Linked DNA regions of Homo sapiens: regions 2 and 3 are each linked to region 1. Evidence: fine-mapped expression QTL. A gene starts in region 1. Each other region holds a variant in brackets. All regions are shown on one strand. Distances are from middle to middle.

Region 1 (6,817 bases):
TTATGTACACGTTTTTGTGTAGACATATGCTTTCAATTCTCTTTCAATCCTTGAAGTGGGATGTTACTCAGAGTTACTGTGTAATTCTATGTTTAGCATTTTGAGAAACTGCTGGACTGCTTTCCAAAACAGCGGCACCATTTTACATTCCCACCAGCAATGTATGAGAACTCTGTAATCCTCTTGACACTGGATTCAACCCCTGCTTGCCTTAGCATTCTGAAACTGTCAGGCCCAGGAGAGAGAATTCTGCAGTTAGCTTGCACCCATCTTTTCCCTGAAGTTATAGTTATGCAAGACAACAAGCTTTGCAAACTTTAATCATCTGAAAAGAACACTTGGACCGCTGGGTGCAACCAGAGTGATTTATCTTCCTTTCTAAGGGGATAATACAGCCTTGATCCTTTTGACTGAGAGGAGCCATGTATAGATACAGCTCAGCATCCCCACTTGGCTGGTGTGCACAGAGAAGAGGCAGCATTCACCTGGGCTCTTTGCCGAGAAGTGTTCTTATTAAGGAGGTGCTGCCAGGCGTGTGTCAGTTGTGTCTGCACACCCTCATCAACCTCTTAGTGGATCCTCAGGCTGCCTGGCAAGGAGCTGGCACTGGTTCCTGTGGTGCCTGGGGTGTGAGGCTGGAGAGACATCTGTCCAGGTGGACAGAGACAGTGGATGCAGGCTGCTTCCTCCTGGGTACCTGGCTGGAGAACACATAGATGTTTGCTGTCTGCTCATGAGGCGCTGGGGAGCAGAGACTTCTCAACTCCACTTGTTCTTTTTGTGCCTGGATACAAGGAAGGCTCTATTTTCAGTGGCTCAGACCTGCCAGCCTCGATGAGGAAGGGTTTGTTTGCACAGCATCTGGATGTGGGAGCGAGGTAATTCAGGCAGGTGGGGTAGGAAGGAGATTGCTAACCTCGAAGGAGTTCCCTTGTGCAGAAGGAAAATTACCAGCTGTGCTTATTCTGTGATTGGATGGAGGAAGGGCTTGTTCATTTTAGTCAGTCTAAGGGGAATGTTTCTGGGAGGTGTAGGGGAGAAAGAGGCAAGAAAAACAATCCCATAGGATCCTTGCTAATGAACTAATGACCCTGCCGGAAGGTGTCAGGTCCATTATACCTGGTGCACGTTTATCCACAGCACATCTCATACCTGTAGGTGTATATTCATGCAACAAATATTTATTGAGTCCCTACTATGTTCCAGGAGCTTTCTAGGGTTCAGGAATACAACAATGAGTAAAACAAACAGGGGTAATTGTCCTCGTGGAGATCAGAGCCTTATGGGGTGGAGAGGCATTAATTAAATGATTACAGGAATCGGTGCGGGACAGGGTCTTGCAGGTTGCTATGAGAGCGTATAAGAGGGGAAAATGGCTTAGTATGAGGTGTGGAGTTGTCCAGAAAACCTTTTCTGGGGCACCCAGGTCTACTGGATGAACAGGGCTGGGGTGGGGAGAAGAACATTTCAGGTGGAGGGCACAGAAGGTGTCAAGCCCTGAAGCAGGACAGAACACAACATTCCAGGAATGGAAAGAAAGCCAGGAGGGGAGAATGGAGCAGGAGGAAAGGTAGGCAGGGCCAGCTGCTCAAGGTCTAATGGGCTGTGCAAAATCCCCCTTACTCTTCTCCCAGGAACAGTGGGCAGCCATTGGAGGTTTTAAGCTTGGCAGTGACACAGCCAAGATTTGCAATGACCATTCTGTTTTGACTGAATGGAGTTGTGGTTCTGGTTTTAGGGGTGGTTGGGGCCACCCAAGTGAGACCGTGTCAACTGTGTGGGCCGGTGAAAATGTAACTGTGAACACTAGATGAGCTTAATAGTGGGCAGATGTGGAATCAAAGGGAAAGTGATGTTGAGGGAAGGAAGACGGGGTCCCCAAGGGGGCATGGACCATAGTCTTTCTGAGGCTAGCTTTAGCCTCTGAAGGCCATTTTGGCCTTGAATTTCTTTTTCTTTCTTTCTTTCTTTTTTTTTTTTTCAGGCAGGGTTTCATCACTCTGTCACCCAGGCTGGAGTGGGTGACTCACTGCAGCCTTGACCTGACCTCCTGGGCTCAAGTGATCCTCCTACCTCAGCCTCTTGAGTAGCTGGGACTACAGGCATGCACCACCATGCCCAGCTAATTTTTCTTTTTTTTTTTTTAGAGACTGGGTCTTGTTATGTTGCCCAGGCTGGTCTTGAACTCCTGGGCTCATGCAATCCTCCTGCCTCAGCCTCCCAAAGTGCTGAGATTACAGATCTGAGCCACCATGCCTGGCCTGGCCTTGAGTTTCTGATGAAACCTGGGAAACCACATGTTTTTCTGAACACCTGGGAGCAACCCTTCTTTCTACTTGCTCAGACCTACCCACCTAGCTAAGTGCTTAACACGTGGACTGTCATTGGCTTAGAAGGTCAGAGTTGGAGGCCTCAGAGGTCGGCTGGTCCAGAGCTTCTCAGAGGGCATCCCTGGATCCTTGTATTAGCATCATCTCTGTGGTACTGGTTTAAAAACTGCAGATTCCTGGGTCTTACTTCAGACCTCCTGAATTAGAACTCTTTTTTGGGAGGGATGGGGGTGGAGGATTTGTGGTAGCACCTATTAGGGAATCAGCATTTTGAGCGAGTGCTCCAGGGGATTCTTCTGCACACTATATTTGTTTCCTGCGTCTTCTGTAACAAATGACCACAAATATGGTGGCTTAGAACAACATACATGTATTCTGTCACCGTTCTGGAGGCCAGAAGTCCCAAGGCTGTGAAATCGAGGTGTTGGAAGGCCCACATCCCTCCAGCGGCTCTAGGGGAGAATCCATTCTTGCCCCTTCCAGCTCCTGTGGCTGCTGGTGTTCCCTGGAGTGGGGCAGGATCTCGCTAACCTCTGCCTGCCTCATTTCATCACCTCTCCTTTTTGTCTATTGTCAAATCTTCTTCTGCCTTCCTCTTAGGACACTTGTGTATTTAGGGTCAGGATAATCTTCCCATCTCGAGATCCTTAACTTAGTCATAGCAGCAAAAACCCTTTTCCCAGATAAGGGACTATTTACAGGTTCTCAAGATGAGGACCTGGTATCCTTGGGGGACCATTTTCTAGTGTGCCACAAACACTGAAGTTCAAAAAGCATTGGTGTGGTTGACATCCTTCGGGTAGACCAGATGTAGGAAACTGGAGCCCAGAGAGAAGTGACTAATCCAAGGTCATACAGCTTGTAACTCACTTCTGAGATTGGAATCAAGGCTCCTGATTCCAAGGCCTTTCTGGGAATCCTGGCTTCAAGGAATAGTGATACCTGACATTCACTGAATGTTACTTCATACTGTTCTAAGCAGATGACATGTACTATCTCATCACTCTTCCGAACAACCCTTTGTGGTAGGCTCTCCTATGCTCTTCCAGTTTATAGATAAAAAAACTTAGGAGAAAAGAGGTTAAACAACTTGCCCAACATGACAGAGCAAATTACCGGGGGAGCTGGGATAGAAACCGAGGCAGTCAGAGGCCAAAGCGTTCACTCACAGGTGGAACCTCCTCCAGTCAGGCTTATTCCAAATCTGGCCTGTGAATCACTACTCTCTGGTATTTTTTGCCTTCCTAGGAAATATGCACCAAAACATTTCTGGCAGGAAAGGAGGCCCCTGTAACTACTTGCCTTCTTCCTGCTCAGAGCCATGCCTCCAATTCCTTGATGAATATTTGCTTCAAGCTGCTCAATAAGCCTTCTCATCTCAGTCAATGGGCTTGAAGCAAGGTAAGCAGGTCTTGCAAAGAGGTGTGTGGAGGGAATGCCGGGGTGGGGTCAAGATCCTAATGGATTTCTTAGGCTAATGGCCTGGGATGGGCCCTGGAAAGTTCCCAGACCCCAAATTATTTGCAAAAGGCAGAAGAAGAAGGTGGGGCAGATTGGCCTGGACCTTGGGTACATATTTGTCCCTGGCCATGACTCACTTCCTTCTGGAACAGGGCCTCAGGTGAAATGTTTGTCTGCTCCACCTCCTTTAGTGCCTTATAGCTCCCCTCCCAGTGGAGCAGGTGTCTGAGAGTACAGTGCAGCCCTGCCCTTCTGTCCACCCTACAGAGCCCACGGCCATGGCAGCCCAGGCAGCTGGTGTATCTAGGCAGCGGGCAGCCACTCAAGGTCTTGGCTCCAACCAAAACGCTTTGAAGTACTTGGGCCAGGATTTCAAGACCCTGAGGCAACAGTGCTTGGACTCAGGGGTCCTATTTAAGGACCCTGAGTTCCCAGCATGTCCATCAGCTTTGGGCTACAAGGATCTTGGACCAGGCTCTCCGCAAACTCAAGGCATCATCTGGAAGCGGCCCACGGTAAGGAAGCGGGCTTGCTGTTGAGTGACATACAAGGTGGAGGGGCCTTACATCTGATCAGGAGGAACTGAGGGAGAAGTTGAGGCTGTGGACCCTAAGTGTCTGGATCTCATATTTCAGATCCCTCCACCACCACCTTTTTTAATTTTATTTTTTTGAGATGGAGTCTTGCTCTGTCACCCAGGCTGGAGTGCAATGGCATGATCTCAGCTCACTGCAACCTCTACCTCCTGGGTTTGAGTGATTCTCCTGCCTCAGCCTCCCGAGTAGCTGGGATTACAGGCATGTGCCACCATGTCTGGCTAATTTTGTATTTTTAGTAGAGATGGGGTTTCTCCATGTTGGTCAGGCTGGTCTCAAACTCCCAACCTCAGGTGATCCATCTGCCTCAGCCTTCCAAAGTGCTGGGATAGCAGGCATGAGCCACTGCATCTGGCCCCCCCATCACCTTTTGAACTCTTATTTTTTTTGAGGCAGAGTCTCACTCTGTCACCCAGACTGGAGTGCAGTGGTGCGATCACAGTGCACTGCAACCTCAACCTTCCTGGGCTCAGGTGATTTTCCTACCTTAACCTCCCAAGTAGCTGGGATTATAGGCACGTGCCACCACACCCAGCTAATGTTTACATATTTTTGTAGAGACAGGGTTGTGCTGTGTTGCCCAGGGTGGTCTTGGACTCCTGGGCTTAAGCCATCTGCCCACCTCAGCCTCCCAAAGTGTTAGGATTACAGATGTGAGCCACTACACCCAGCCTGAACTCTTGTTCAGAGATGGTGAGGTATAGAGAGAAGAGCATGGATGAGCTTTGGAACTAGGTAAGATAGATTTGAATCCTAGCTCTGCCTGTGTTGTTTTGGGCCGGTAAACTCTGTGAACCTTAGTTTTCTCATCTGTAAAATGGCATTTACTGGCACCTTATTTTTCAGGGTTGGTATGAGAATTAGAGATAAATCTCAGAGCATAGTGCCCAGAACATAATAGATGCAGAATACGTAGTTGTTATTACTGCATATGGTCCCTGGGCCAGTGCACAATGGAACAACTCAGTGCTGGATGCAATCAGCTGGCAGGTAAATTGTGACAACATCATTGCTGAAAGGTGCACGGTTGCGCAAGGTCATGAATTGACATTATTCCATCAGGGCTGGTGAGTGGAGAGGTGGGAGCTGGGGCTCTGTGGATGCAGACGGAAGGCAGAGGCTCCTGGATGCGGTTACTGATACTACCCAAAGCTCAAGGGCAAGGGATGGAGAACAGTCCTCCCAAAACCTAGACCCATGACCTATCACTATGTGACCCTTGTCAAGTGATTCCTCAGGGATGAGAACCTCTCCCATACAGAGTGGTTGTGAGAATTGAGCTCATCCATACAAAGTGCTCTGTTCAACAGAGCTCATAACAACGTCTCAGGAGAGGGGCTATGAAATGACCTGGGCACCTTTTGTCTTCTAAACCATGATAGGGAAATTAAGTCAGGGTTCCTATTTTCTTGGCAGTGGTTGAAACAGGAAGACAAAGGGAGAGTACTTCTTCTAAAATGGTCAAAATCACTATTTAACTCCAGCTAGCTACCTCTACCCTTTTTACTTTGATCCTGCTGATTTTGCCTAACAGTTTTCATCTCTGAGAATAACTCCTTGGCCATGCTGCCCTCCCGCCCACCGTGGTTCATCTTCCCATTCCCCTCTGAAACCTATAGGGTTACCCTGGTATGTTGATAAAATCCAGATTGGGAGTAATGGTTTTTATTCTAATTTCAAGACAGCCACATTTCATTTCAACAGACAGTTTTTTTGAGCTTCCATTTTGTGCCAGGCATGGGCTCTGCACTGATTGGAAAGGTGGTCAGGGAGAAGCTGAGGAAGGAGCTGTGGTCTCAGCTCTGATGGAAAGTGTGGGGAGACACAGGTGTGAATAAAGGACAGATGCCCAAGGCAGAATGAAGTAAGAACTCTACAGAGGCATAAATGATGGGCCATGGGAACCTGGGTTGTCACAACTGGGTGGTGAAAAGCCTTAGGGAGGGGTACCATTGCAGATCCCAAGGGTCTTGGGGGAGAGGAAGGAGGGGGAGAAAATTTTCCTTTAGAGACCAAAGTCAGGTATCAGTTAACCTTTGCTTAGTTTTTCTCCTTTCTTTGAAATCCTTAGAGACTTTACCTCCTTAACCACATAGCCTGTTCTTCCCCAAACTATGTCTTCACCTGTCCTCGTGGTCTGTGGAAATGCGGTAATTGTAGACTGGATGTGCTGATTTGTGGCTGTCAAAGGAGGAAGTAAAATTCAGAGCATGAGGCAGTAGAACCTGAGTAATGCGGAAGGTGCAATTGAAGGACTCCTATTTGGAGTTTTCAAGTGCGTGTTGAGTAAATAAATGCGTGTCAAAATTTAACCTCTCCTTCCCTAATCATCAGTGAAAAATTATCACACAGCTGCTTTTGGGCAGGCTCATGCTCACATACCACAAGGGTACATTAGAGAAGGCAGACTTATCCTCTAAGATCTTACAG
Region 2 (6,817 bases), 190 kb before region 1:
TACCTATAGGGTTCTTAAAATAATGCTTTTTTTTTTCTTTTTTGAGACAGAGTCTTGCCCTGTCGCCCAGGCGATCTCGGCTCACTGCAACCTCCACCTCCCAGGTTCAAGCAATTCTCCTGCCTCAGCCTCCCAAGTAGCTGACACTACAGGTTTGCACCACCACACATGGCTAATTTTTGTATTTTTAGTAAGATGGGGTTTCACTATGTTGGCCAGGCTGGTCTTGAACTCCTGACCTCAGGTGATCCACCCACTGTGGCTTCACAAAGTACTGCGATTACAGGCATGAGCCACCACGCCTGGCCAAATGCCTTCGATTTTATGTGTACTTCATTTCACATAAATGTGCCCCAGACAGTGACTGGATCATAATAGACATTCAGTCGTGTTTATTGAATTAAATTGAAAACTTGAATGTAAATTGATATTCAGGGGTAAAGAAAAGCATGTTTATTTATTTATTTTTGTAGCTGGGACTATAGGCGCATGCTACCATGCTGGGCTAAATGTGTATTTAAATGGACAGGGAGAATTTGCCATAGTCGGTTCTTTTGTATAAGCATACTTTGATTACTTTTTTCAAGTTCATATTTATTCTATTAGATGTAGTAAATGTGATGTATGTTTGAAAATAGATTTCAGGGTATGTGTGGTTGGGGAATTCATGTGGAGGTCAGAGTAGAAGCAGATGTGAGAGGGTCAAGCAGAAGAAAACATGGCTGCCAAAGTGTTTGCGTCCATCGGCAAGTTTGGCCTGGCCTTAGCTGTTGCAGGAGGCGTGGTGAACTCTGCTTTATATAATGTGGATGCTGGGCACAGAGCTGTCATCTTTGACCGATTCCATGGAGTACAGGACATTGTGGTAGGGGAAGGGACTCACTGTCTCATCCCCTGGGTACAGAAACCAATTATCTTTGACTGCCGTTCTCGACCACGTAAAGTGCCAGTCATCGCCGGCAGCAAAGACTTACAGAATGTCAACATCACACTGCGCATCCTCTTCTGGGCCGTTGCTAGCCAGTTTCTCGCATCTTCACCAGCATCGGAGAGGACTATGATGAGCGTGTGCTGCTGTCCATCACGACCGGCATCCTCAAGTCAGCGATGACTCGCTTTGATGCTGGAGAGCTAATCACCCAGAGAGAGCTGGTCTCCAGGTAGGTAAGCAATGACCTTACGGAGCGAGCAGCCACCTTTGGGCTCATCCTGGACGACGTGTCCTTGACACATCTGACCTTCGGGAAGGAGTTCACAGAAGCGATGGAAGCCAAACAGGTGGCTCAGCAGGAAGTAGAGAGGGCGAGATTTGTGGTGGAAAAGGCTGAGCAGCAGAAAAAGGTGGCCATCATCTCTGCTGAGGGCGACTCCAAGGCAGCTGAGCTGATTGTCAACTCACTGGTCACCGCGGGGGACGGTCTAATCGAGCAGGAAGCTGTGGAAGACATCGCGTACCTGCTCTCACGCTCTTGGAACATCACCTATCTGCTGGCGGGGCAGTCCGTGCTCCTCCAGCTGCCCCAGTGAGGGCCCACACGGCCTCCACTTCCGCGGGCTGACCGGGCCACAGCCCCGGTGATTCTTAACGCCGCCTCCCTTCTGCTCCCACTCCAGAAATCACTGTGAAATTTCATGATTGACTTAAAGTGAAGGAAATAAAGGTAAAACCACTTCAGATCTCAAAAAATAAAAAAAGAAAGAAAATAGATTTCAGAAAACAATTACTTTAGGAGAAAAAAATCTTCAGTGGTTACAGTTTGAGGACTCATCAGTTCGAAGTGAAAATTCTCTCTAAGCAGATACTACTCTCCTTTTTCAGTTTTGTAGTCTCCTAAATTTACCTTCTCTGCTGACCTTTTAAAAGCTCCCTCTGGGCCTTAACTAGAGCAATAAAAATTGAGTTTGGCCAAGACTTTTACAAATTTTACTCTTGGGAGTCTCTCTGAACCTGTTCTGGGGTTCAGGGGCTGCCTGACAAAATACAAAAAAAGTTACTCTGTCTCAATTAATGTACATTGGGCGACAATAAGAGGTGGGGTGAAATATTCTCAACTGTCAATAAGAAACTTGAATGTCATACATAACAGTTATTAGAAGTGAGTTATGAATTCCTCATAAGTGGGATTTAAATGATGATATAAAATCATCGAGTTAGTTTCTCCTTGTCTCTCCTTTTTTTTTTTTTTGAGTTGAGTCTCACTCTGTCGCCCAGGCTGGATACAGTGGCGTGATCTCGGCTCACTGCCACCTCCACCTCCCTGATTCAAGCAATTACCCTGCCTCAGCCTCCCGAATAGTTGGGATTACAGGCGCACACCACCATGCCTGGCTAATTTTTTTTTTTTTTTTTTTTTTTTAGTAGAGACGGGGTTTCACCATGTTGGCCAGACTGGTCTTGAACTCCTGACCTCAGGCAATCTGCCCACCTCAGCCTCCCAAAGTGCTTGGATTACAGGCGTGAGCCACCATGCCCGGCCTAGTTTTTCCTTTTCTAATTATTTATCTTTAGCTATTCAGAGAAAAACTTTTGTGGCAGCAACACAATTACATTCATTTAGTAATTGAGAGTCAAACATTGTGTGCTAGGCTAAAGGGAATGCCCAGAACTTTAAGAACTGGTCCTTTCCTCAAAGGAACTTAGGCCACGTAGCTGTAAAATCAGTGTGCTTTTCATAGGTATTCTTGAAAAATACTTGAATAAATCCCAAGTTTAAAAATGATTTAAAAATGGTTAGGATGCAGTTCATTCAGTTCATTCTCATCTAACACTGTGTGTTTAAGAGGTGACCAAGAAGAAATACATGTACATTCCTTACAGTAGAATAAAGCCCCTTTGCAAGGGGGAGAATGGAAGCTGCGACATACTTCGTTGGTGGCCAATGGGCCTTTGTGAGTTCTTGGCACTTGGAAGCCTGTTTTCAGTATTTCAGGCTAAAATTCTCTTGCTTGTCAATAGAGAAGCCTTAATTTTTCTTTCTAAAGTCTCATCACATAGATTTTCTTTTTTTTTTTTTTCAAATGCTCATGGTAACACGGTAGTTATAAATATAGTTTTTTTTTTTTTTTTCTGAGACAGAGTCTCACTCTGTTGCCCAGGCTGGAGTATAGTGGCACCATCTCGGCTCACTGCAGTCTCCACCTTCTGGGTTTAAGCGATTTTCCTGTCTCAGCCACCCAAGTAGCTGAGTTAACAGGTGCTCACCACCATGCCCAGCTAATTTTTGTATTTGTATTTGTATTTTATTTATTTATTTTAAGACAGAGTCTCACTCTGTTGCCCAGACTGGAGTGCAATGGTGCGATCTCCACTCACTGCAACCTCTGCCTCCCGGGTTCAAGCAATTCTCCTTCCTCAGCCTCCTGAGTAGCTAGGATTATAGGCGGCCACTACC[G/A]CACCCGGCTAATTTTTGTATTTTTAGTAGAGACAAGGTTTTGCCACGTTGGCCACGCTTGTCTTGAACTCTTGATCTCAGGTGATCCACCCGCCTTGGTCTCCCAAAGTGCTGGGATTACAGGAGTGAGCCACCGCGCCCGGCCAGTGTATTTTTAGTAGATACGGGGTTTCACCATGTTGGCCAGGCTGGTCTCGAACTCCTAACCTCAAGTAATCCATCTGCCTCAGCCTCCCAAAGTACTGGTATTACAGGTGCGAGCCACCGCCCGGCCTCATAAATATAGTTGTTTATGAAAGACACCACCATTGGCCAATCATCAGAAGGGGAGCACTTTAGGTCTGTATTTCAGCAAGAGATTTACATTCCATAGATCCTTTCACTCTCATTCAATCAGAACTTTTTGTAGGCATTTATGAGATGGCTATTTGGGGTGACAGATATAATCTATGGCCATAGAACTGGGAAACACTGACTTGAATCATGTAAGCTACAGACAAATGAATAATTCATTGATTTAGTCACTCTTTAATTAATTTATTTATTCATTCTACTATTATGGACTGAGCACTGTTTTAAGTACTGAAGAATCCATGCTAAACAAGGATGAGTAGAGTCCCTACCTGTGGGTTACAGTATTGTGGGAGAGACTGACATTAATTGAATAACACAAACCAGTGTAATGAATACAGTGAATACAGTGGTGACACATGGTGTGAAGGTGAGGTCCTTGGAGCTATGCTACAGCATGTGCTAGAGGAAGCATGAAGGGCAAAAGGGAAACTGAAAAAGGTGGTGTGGCTGAGTCTCACAGAAGGAGAGGACTGTGGTACCTAGTACCACTGAAGGATGGGCAGAGACAGGCATTCAAGGGCTTGGAGGCAGAGTTAAGGAAGGACATCAAGCAGTGCTATCTTGTGATCAGATTTACGAGAAATGATGGTAGCTTGAATAGCATGGCTGTAGTCACGGAAGAAAGGGAGCTTGATGAGATATTTAGGAGACGGAATGAATAGACCTTGATGATTGAATAGATCTTAGAGATGAGGGAGAAATAAGGTCAAACATGATTCTCAGGTCTGTGGCTTGAGAAAATGGGAGAACACTTGTGGCATACACTGAGACAGGAAGTACTAGATGAGAACCAGAATTGGGAATAAAAACTACCCCTTGGTTTTAGACATGCTGAGTTGAGACATGTTGATATGGAAATCCAGCACTATTCAATAGAGCTTTCTGTGATGATGGAAGTGTTCTGTATCTACACTGCTGAGTATTTTAGCCATTACTCACATGTGGCTATTTACATTTAAGCTAAAATAAAAGATTTAGTTTCTCAGTTGCACTAGCCACATTTCAAGTGCCCAACAGCTATATGTGGCTAGTGATTTTTGCATTTGACAATGCAGTTCTAGAACCTAGAGAAGCAGCCTAGGTTGAAAATATAAAAAATTAGCCAGGCATGGTGGCTTATGCCTGTAATCTCAGCACTTTGAGAGGTCAATCCAGAAGAATTGCTTGAGGCCAGGAATTTGAGACCAGCTTAGACAACAAAGTGAGATCCTGCAGCTATAAAAAAAAATATGAAAATAGTCTGGGCACAGTGGCTCACGCCTGTAATCCCAGCACTTTGGGAGGCCGAGGAGGGCAGATCACCTGAGGTCGGGAGTTTGAGACCAGCCTGACAAGCATGGAGAAACCCCATCTCTACTAAAAATACAAAATTAGCCTGGCATAGTGGCGCATGCCTGTAATCCCAGTTACTTGGGAGGCTGAGGCAGGAGAATTGCTTGAACCGAGGAGGCAGAGGTTGCAGTGAGCCGAGATCTTGCCATTGTACTCCAGCCTGGGCAACAAGAGCAAAATTCCACCTAAAAAAAATAAATAAATACATAACAATTAAAAAGTTGAAAAAAATTAAATTTAGTCATACATGATGGTGTGCACCTGTAGTTCCAGCTACTCAGGAGGCTGAGGTAGAAGTCTTGCTTGATTCCAGGAGTTTGGGGCTGCAGTGAACTATGATAGCACCACTGCACTCCAGCCTGGGAACAAAGCAAGAGTCCACCTCTTAAAAAAAAAAAAAAAAAGAGAGAGATGTGTGTCGATGAGGTTTAAGACTGTGAAGACAACTTTCTAAGGAAGAAGTGAAGGTAGTCAGTGAAAAGAGGAAATGGCTAGGACTGAGACTACAGGACCTTCAACTTGTAAAGTCTGGTGAACAAAAATGAGCCTTCAAAGGATACCAAGAAGTAATCAGGGAGGTAGGAGAAAAACTGTAAGAGCCTTGTCATATAAGTCAAGTGAAAAGGGTGTTTTGAAAGGAATGAGCAACAGCTAAGTTGTTCTAGAAGGTTGAGGAAGATGAGACTGAAGATGTTTATTGGATCAGTGAAACACAGGCCATTGGTGACTTTGGCAAGAGCTGTTTCAGAGGAGGGATGAGGCTGAAAGGCAGACTAAATGAGTGAGGAGGGGGTGAGGTAATGGAGAGAGAACTGACAATAGAAGAAAATAAATCATGGGCTCCTTTTTCCACGGGCTACCAATAAAACAGGGAATTACTTTAGCCAAATCAAGCTAGAGTCATATATCATAGATATATGTCTTCAAACACTGAGTTTATCCTACAAAGTTACCAATTTTGAATCTTTTGTCATGATTATGAGGAGATATATGTGTGCTGGGTTTTCTTCCTACTCCAACTACCTTGGAGGGTGGGTATGAAATAGACCATGTGAAGGCTTAGAGGCCATGTTGAAGTATTCTTTATCCTAACAGCAATAAAAAGCAACTGAAGGCTTTTCTTTTTTAAGTCATTTTATTATCTAAAATTTAGAGCATACAGAAGAAGAGAGAAAAATGTAACTCATCACTCCCGGGTATTATTCATCACCTGACCCTAACACCCTTCAGCCTTTAGTCCTGGCCCATCCATACCCCATCTACTTAGATGAGAAGTTTTAACCACAGGAGTGATATAATTACACTTGTGTTAAAAAGACCATTCTTGCTGCTGGGTAGAGCAAAAGTCAGCACATTTCCAGGTAGTAAATATTTTAGGCTTTGCTGGCTGTACAGGCTCTGTTGCAACTATTTAACTCTTGTTGTAGCTTGAAAGCCGCACTAGACAATACATAAATAAATAAGTGTGTCTGTGTTCCAATAAAACCTTATTTATGGACACTGAAATTTGAATTTCATATAGTTTTTGCATGTCACAAAATATTCTTCATCTTGTTTTGATTTTCCCCCTCACAATTTAAAAATGTAAAAATGATTTTTGCTCATAGGCAATACAAAAACAGGCAGAAGGCCAAATTTGGGCTGTAGTTTGCTAAGCTCTAGGGTAGAGAATGAATTGCAGCAGGCAAGAGAAGTTGTGGGAAGACTTGCCCAAGGCTATTGCAAGAATCAGAACAAAA
Region 3 (6,817 bases), 110 kb after region 1:
GTGTGATCTTGGCCTGTTACATAACATTTAAAATGAAGTAACATTTAAAATTCCAGTTTGTCCATTGGTGAAGTGAGGACAGTAATGAGAGGAACCTCACAGGACAGTGGTGAATATTAAATGAAATAATCCACGCAAAGTACCTGACAGGTAGTAAGTACTCAACAAAGACAAGTATTATTACTACAGTGGTTATCTTTATGAGTACAGCATCATCAAGCTATATTGGGCCTTTTGTACTCATCTTAGTGATAGTTTTGAAAGAAATTAACCCGGCTTTCTAGAAATTTCGTGTCATCTGGGAAGCTGTCACTTTTCCATTCTGTCTTGTGGTGACAACTGGGCATTGTCCTATTTTGGGCAGAGCCCATTGTCACATCAGAAAGTCTCTGGACAGAAGCATTCATATAATGGTTTGTAATTTCCAAAGGACTTTGACCCACATTAGCTCTCATTTGATTCCTAAAATGGCCCCATGAAAATGGTCTGGTTAAATCAATAACAGAGTGGAGGCCATGGATGTTCAGAGCCCTGAGATAGTGTCCAGTAAGGGTACAATCTGCTATTTGAACTCCAGTCTCCTGGCTTCTAGTTCTACTCTTTCTACTAGGCCATGTTCTCAACACTTTTGAAATCATGTTGCTCTTCGTGAATCTGATGAAAGCTAAGAAAATGTTTTTTTTTTCTGATATAAGGTCTCGCTTTATCACCCAGGCTGGAATACAGTGGCACAGTCTTGGCTCACTGTGGCCTCAGCCTCTGAAGTAGATGGGACTACAGGCGTGCACCACTACACCCAGCTAATTTTTGTATTTTTTGTAGAAATGGGGTTTCACCGTGTTGCCCAGGCTACTATCGAACTCCTGGGCTTACGTGACCTGCCCGCCTCAGCCTCCCAGAGTATTAGGATTTCAGGTGTGAGCCACTGCACCCAGCCAAAAATGCATTTAGATATGACCCCATGTTTTCACGCAATTTCTGGAGTTCAGACTCCCTGGAAAATTATCAGTGATTCCCTTAGGAGTCCACAGATTCACACCAAGATTTTCTGGTGTCAGTGTCATTTTCTGAAAGTTGTTCAGGTTGTAATCAGAAATTCAGGGTTGGTGGGGCTCACTTCCCCAAATCACTTAGAGAGAAAACTGCTAGGCCCCAGCGCTGCCTCTCTGCTCATCCCTGCTGGACTGTAAGCTCCCTGGGGCCAGGACCTTTGCTGTCTCTTGGTTTGCCACCATGTGCCCCCACTTAGCCCAAAGCCTGGCACATAGTAGGTGCATCATAGATACTAATGGATGAAGGAATGAATTTTAAATCTTCGTCTTTCATTCTCCTTGACGATTCCCATTTTAACTTTGCAAATGTCCTTCTTTTTAGCCACATCCCAGTGAGGTGGATCAGGAAGATGACCAGTTCAGGAGGCTGTTTGAGAAGTTGGCAGGGAAGGTGAGTGGAGGGCGAACATGGCTTCCCAGGTGGGCAGGAGAATATTCAGGAATGCTCAGGTCACTTCATTCTTTACTCCCTGAGGTCTCTAGGCATAAAAAGGGTGAGACTCAGGTCTCAGGGGCCCCCAGCTTCTGTGCCCATCACCATCCTGTCTTAAGATTGAGTACCTTTCCTTCATCACTTGGGAATTGGTCCTGAGGCTACTTATCTTGCTGCGTTGACTGACTCTTGAGAAAATAGAAAAGCCAGATCTCCAGGTCCTGCCAAAAGCCTTTCTGTTTGCAGATTGGCCCTGTCAGATTGGGGTCTCTGAATAAAAAGCTGGGATGGCAAAACCTCTCCAAATAGATATCCTTCAGAGTGAGGATTGCCCAGCCGCAGTGGAAGGCAGCTCAGCTAACCTGGCTTGGGATTAGTGTGCAGGACTAGCCCTGTTCCCTGTCACCGTCCTGCAGCCCTGCCCGCCCTCTGGGAGACCAGCAGCCTGAGGAATCCAAGCTTTGCCCGACATGAATGCAACTTGGGCACTTGGAGCAGAGAAAGAAGCGACCCCTGATCCTTCTCCCCTGCCCTGGCTTCCGTTCACTTTGGTAGCAGCCCGGTGGGGGCCACAAGTCAAAGCATAACCAGGACTTGAAATGTCAAAACCGGCCCCATAAATACAGCGAATGTGTTACTCTTTGGAGGATAATAAAGTGTGTGAAAAGGGCCCGGAAGAGGAAAAAACAATGGTCTCCCCCCACCACCCCGGGAAACTCAGGGTGACTTTCTAGACTTAAGGATAAAATAGAAGAAAAGATATCAGAATCCCTTGCAGGAAATAAAACCTGGGAACAGTTCCTTTGCATAGCCATTGAATAAAACCCTTGCAAAGATGAGCCAATTTATGTTTTAGATGGATTTACAGGCCAGTATTTTTGCTAACAAAACCTGTTTCCTTAGCTGCCAAGGGCCATATTTTATTAAGAACACCAAGAATGATGAAAGGAAAAGCTCATATTTGCATAGTTCTTCATGCACTTTATCTTACCTTTCTCTCTGGCTGCATGGGGCAGTATTGGTCACTCTCCTTGCTCGGCTTGTAAAGTGGCCTGCACAGAGAGGTTAAGGAGCTGGCTGAGGGTACAAGGCCTCATGAACGACGGGGTCAAGGTCCAAATGTAGACTCTTGACATCCCATTTCTTTCCTGGCAGGCTAATGGGGGTAGTCTTCTAGCCCCAGAGGCTTTTTAAAGGGGCCTCAAGTCTTTTTTTTTTTTTTTTTTTTTTGAGATGGACTGTTGCTCTGTGACCCAGGCTGGAGTGCAGTGGTGCACGGCTCACTGCAACCTCTGCTTCCCGGGTTCAAGCGATTCTCGTGCCTCAGCCTCCCGAGTAGCTGGGACTGCAGATGCCAGCCAC[A/C]ACGCCTGGATAATTTTTGCATTTTTAGTAGAGACAGGGTTTCGCCATATTGGCCAGGCTGGTCTCGAACTCCTGACCTTAGGTGATCCACCCACCTCGGCCTCCCAAAGTGCTGGGATTACAGGTGTGAGCCACCGTGCCTGGCCCAGGTCCTCAGGTCTTATTATTGGGACTGACCACTCTGTGCTGGGGTGAGGCCAGTTGTCCTCAGAGGAGACACTGCTTTGTGCAGCTCTTGCCTCTCTCATTTCCAGTAGAATTGCCAGGGCCTGGCTAGCGGAGGATGGGAAGATGGAAAGTGACTCGGCTAAAGTCACATGATGAATAAGGGGCTGAGTTGAGACTGGGACCCAGACATCAGCCCAGCACGCCTTCTCTGCATTTCCTTGGTCATCCTGCCTGAGATCTGCTCTCCATCTGAGAGTTAAGGGATGACTCTTCCCTCTGGCTCAGTGTTTATCCCAGATGCACACAGAATATGCTATTCTCTCAATCTCTGCCCCCAGTTTGAGATGGGCTCCTATGTGAAATACCAACTCCTGTAGGTGTGGTGGGGAAAGCCGGCACTTTGGGGTGAACCAACCTTAGGTTTCCAAGTCTAGCTCTGCCTCTTGGTAGCTACAAACCACAAGCAATTACGTCACATGAAAATGACAAATGATGTTGCATGTATACAGTGTTCAGCAGTTTACAAAATCACGACTTCCTTAACTTGAAAATGGCTGTGGAATTGTGCTGAGGATTTAAGGATCTTCCACACTGGCTCTGGCACATCTGGTTCAATCCTATCACTGCTGTTCCTGTTACTTTATCCCTGTTCAAGCGAGCCCTGTGAAAGGCAGCAGGACCCTGGCATGGCAGCCTTCTGCCACGGTGTGTACCACACTCATGGCACTAACACACCTCTGGCCAGGCTGCTGGGATCCCCAAAAGAAGAGGATAATTTGAGTTTTTAAAGATGCCACCTGCTTTTAAAATCACAGGGCCAGCCGGGCACGGTGGCTCATGCCTGTAATCCTAGCACTCTGGGAGGCTGAGGTGGGCAGATCACGATGTCAGGAGTTCAAGATCATCCTGGCCAACATGGTGAAACCCCGTCTCTACTAAAAATACAAAAATTAGCCAGGCGTGGTGGCACGCATCTGTAGTCCCAGCTACTTAGGAGGCTGAGGCAGGAGAATTGCTTGAGCCTGGGAAATGGAGGTTGCAGTGAGCAGAGATTGCGGCACTACACTCCAGCTTGAGTGACAGAGTAAGACTGTCTCAAAAAAAAACAAAAAACAAAAACAAATAAACCTCACAGGGCCAGTGGGCCTGGTGTCTGACTGTGAGGAAGCACTGCATTAATTTACTGTCTTGAAACAACTTGTCAGGGCCTGACATGATTTGCATTTGGGTTCCTCTTTCTAGGATTCTGAGATTACTGCCAATGCACTCAAGATACTTTTGAATGAGGCGTTTTCCAAGAGTAAGTTCCTTCTTGGGGTCTTTCAGAAAGTCCGTAGGAGATGCTGGGGCAGGGTGAGGGATGGGTAGGCAGGCATTGGGCTGGCAGCACCACAGGTGGGAGAAAGGGCATTGGTGTCTGACCCCAGGAGCCCTGATTCAGTCCAGCAAGACAAGAGGGGAAGAAGGAGAGGCAGAAGACGGGGAGGCGAGGGTGGAGGTGAAGGCGGGGCTGGTGCTGGCAAGCAGCCAGCACCTGAAGGAACAAAGCTCCATAGTGTCAAGTGAAATTGCAGGCTGAGTCCCAGGAGAAAAAGAGCTGGGCTGGGATTGACTTAAGTGAATTTTTTTCACAAAATTAATAACTTGGATACTGTGGAAACCTCTGCAGATGAAAGATCTAGTTCTGTAGCTCATCTTGAGGGAAGGAGGAAGGAAGGGATGATTCTGACTCTCCTAGACTGTCCTCAGTTCCCCATCTTCAGATTTTTGCAAGCCTCAGAGCTGTCAGGAGGAAAGATTTGCATCTCCCCTCTGAGCCCCAGCCCACAGGAGGACACAGGGAGCTGGTTTCTTTCCGGGTCCAGGGATGGGCCAGGTTAAGTCTTCCAGTGAGTGATGGGCTCTCATTCACTCACTGCAGCAGGACAGGGCTTGAGAATGCAGGAAGCAGGGGCTTGGCCCAGGAGCCAAGTCATACCCTTCCCAGGGACGAACCCAGGGCTGAGCAGATGGATCCCCAGGGCTCGGAGCACAGGCCCGTCTCCTCTCCACACCACTCTTGCTCCTGCAGTTGTTGAAGAGTGGAGAGAAAGAGAAGGGGTTGCAGGGTCTTTGGCACCTGTCTTGGCTCCCAGGTATATGGAAGGTGAGGGTGGAGGCCAGGGATGGAGCTCCAGTGACATGCCTGCAATTTAGTAAGGAAGGATAGCTGCTGTCATTGAGTGGCTGTGTGTTGTGATTACAAGCTCAGGCTGTGGAGCTGGCTGGCCTGCATTTAACTCCTAGCTTTGCCCCCTACTGGTTGTGACCTTGAGCAAATCATATAACCTCTCTGGGACTCAGATTCCTGATCTATAAAGTGGGTATAATGATAGCATCTACCACACGGAGTGATTTTGAAGAGTAGATGTGCAGTGCTTATAACAATACCTAGCCATATAAAGTTAGCTGTTTTATTAAGAACTTATCATATATCAAGCCTGGGCTAAAACTTCACTTTCATTATCTCAGTTAATACCCAGCCAGTCTTTGGGGCAAGTATGGTCATTGTTACTATCATGATTATTCCCATTTGATGGAGGAGGAAATTAAAGCTCAAAGATATTAATTTGCTGAAGTCTGTGGCTTGTGGGGAGCCAAGCCAAGGTTCAGATGCTGTACTTGGATGCTGGTGCTTGTCTGTTCTATCTCCCACGGCACCAGGAGGCTCAGGCGTATCTGCCCACAAGCCTGCCATGATGCTCTCCCCTTTTGGCAGAGACCAAGTTCGGTTCCACACCCTTGGATGGTATCTTTGGAGGTCTTCTACCGTGGAGGTTCTTTCCCTCACCTTCAAATGATCCGATTCCCACTCCCCTTTTCTATTTAAATCTTTAGGAACAGACATAAAATTCGATGGATTCAACATCAACACTTGCAGGGAAATGATCAGTCTGTTGGATGTATCCTTTAAATGTTGCATTATTTTTTTTTTTTTACTTTCGTCCGGTTTTTAAAGACTCCTCCACCTTTTCCAGTTAGAAGGAAGGGACGGGTAAAAAATGAGAAGGGGAGAGAGCAGGCATGGAGCATATGTCAAGGATTGTACTTGAAGCCTCAAAGGAAAATGTATCATATCATGGATGTGTCTCAGAAAGCTTGAGATTATCTCCGTTTCACAGGTGAAGAAACCGAGGTGTGCAGTGTTTAGGTGACTTATTTAAAATCATGTAATCTGGAGGTAGCAAGCATGGGGCATTTGCGCACCTGCTCCCTCCACACTCTGTTCATCTCTTCATCTTCCTCCTCCCCTTCAATTCTACCCGTCCCCACCCCCACCCTCTACCGTTCCCTGCTTCCCAAGCTCTCCCCATCACTATCTGATCTTTGCTTCAGAATCTTAACATGGCTTGTGGACAGCTACTACTGATAGTTTAGAGTTATCACACAAGATAAAATCTATTTGTTCTCCCTGATCTAGTTTAACCCTCACTTGATATTGAAGTATGGTGTGTTAGGCTGTTCTGGCTGCTGTAACAGGAGACCATAAACTGGGTGGCTTATAAACAACAGAAATTTATTTCTTACTCTTCTGGAGGCTGAGAAGGCCAAGATCAAGGTGCTGGTAGATTTTGTGGTGGATAAGGGCCAGTTTCCTAGTTCATAGATGGCATCTTCTTGCTATAACTTCACATGGTAGATGGGGTGAGGGAGTTTCCTGGGGTTCCTTTTATAAGGGCACTAATTTCATTTCTGAGGGTTCCACCCTCATGACCTAATTACCTCCCAAAGGCCCATCTCCTAATATCCTCACATGAGGATT

Which allele goes with the higher level. Alleles are on the strand shown, and positions count from the first base shown. SD is a standard deviation of normalised expression in the study named.
For the expression in subcutaneous fat of the gene that starts at base 4,015 in region 1, allele A in region 2 goes with a higher level than allele G (small effect, 0.28 SD a copy in GTEx).
For the expression in rectum of the gene that starts at base 4,015 in region 1, allele A in region 3 goes with a lower level than allele C (moderate effect, 0.63 SD a copy in CEDAR).

The links. PIP is the estimated chance that this variant, and not a neighbour inherited with it, causes the effect.
Region 2: its variant is the best candidate, but not a certain one, in a credible set for the expression of CAPN8 in subcutaneous fat (GTEx, PIP 0.80).
Region 3: its variant is the best candidate, but not a certain one, in a credible set for the expression of CAPN8 in rectum (CEDAR, PIP 0.56).

The regions. Positions count from the first base shown.
Region 1 is chr1:223,662,899-223,669,715 of GRCh38, reverse strand. It overlaps CAPN8 (calpain 8), which reads left to right and starts at 4,015. Exons shown (of 21, transcript NM_001143962.2): 1 at 4,015-4,306. The coding sequence starts at 4,070.
Region 2 is chr1:223,851,289-223,858,105 of GRCh38, reverse strand. It overlaps the pseudogene PHB1P11. Among named protein-coding and RNA genes, the nearest start is that of TP53BP2, 8.8 kb to the right of the region's middle. The variant G/A (reference allele first, on the strand shown) is at 3,393.
Region 3 is chr1:223,548,458-223,555,274 of GRCh38, reverse strand. CAPN8 (calpain 8) reads left to right here. Exons shown (of 21, transcript NM_001143962.2): 14 at 1,375-1,443; 15 at 4,258-4,315; 16 at 5,893-5,957. Among named protein-coding and RNA genes, the nearest start is that of CAPN8, 110 kb to the left of the region's middle. RefSeq lists enhancers at 4,010-4,069, 4,470-4,519. The variant A/C (reference allele first, on the strand shown) is at 2,848.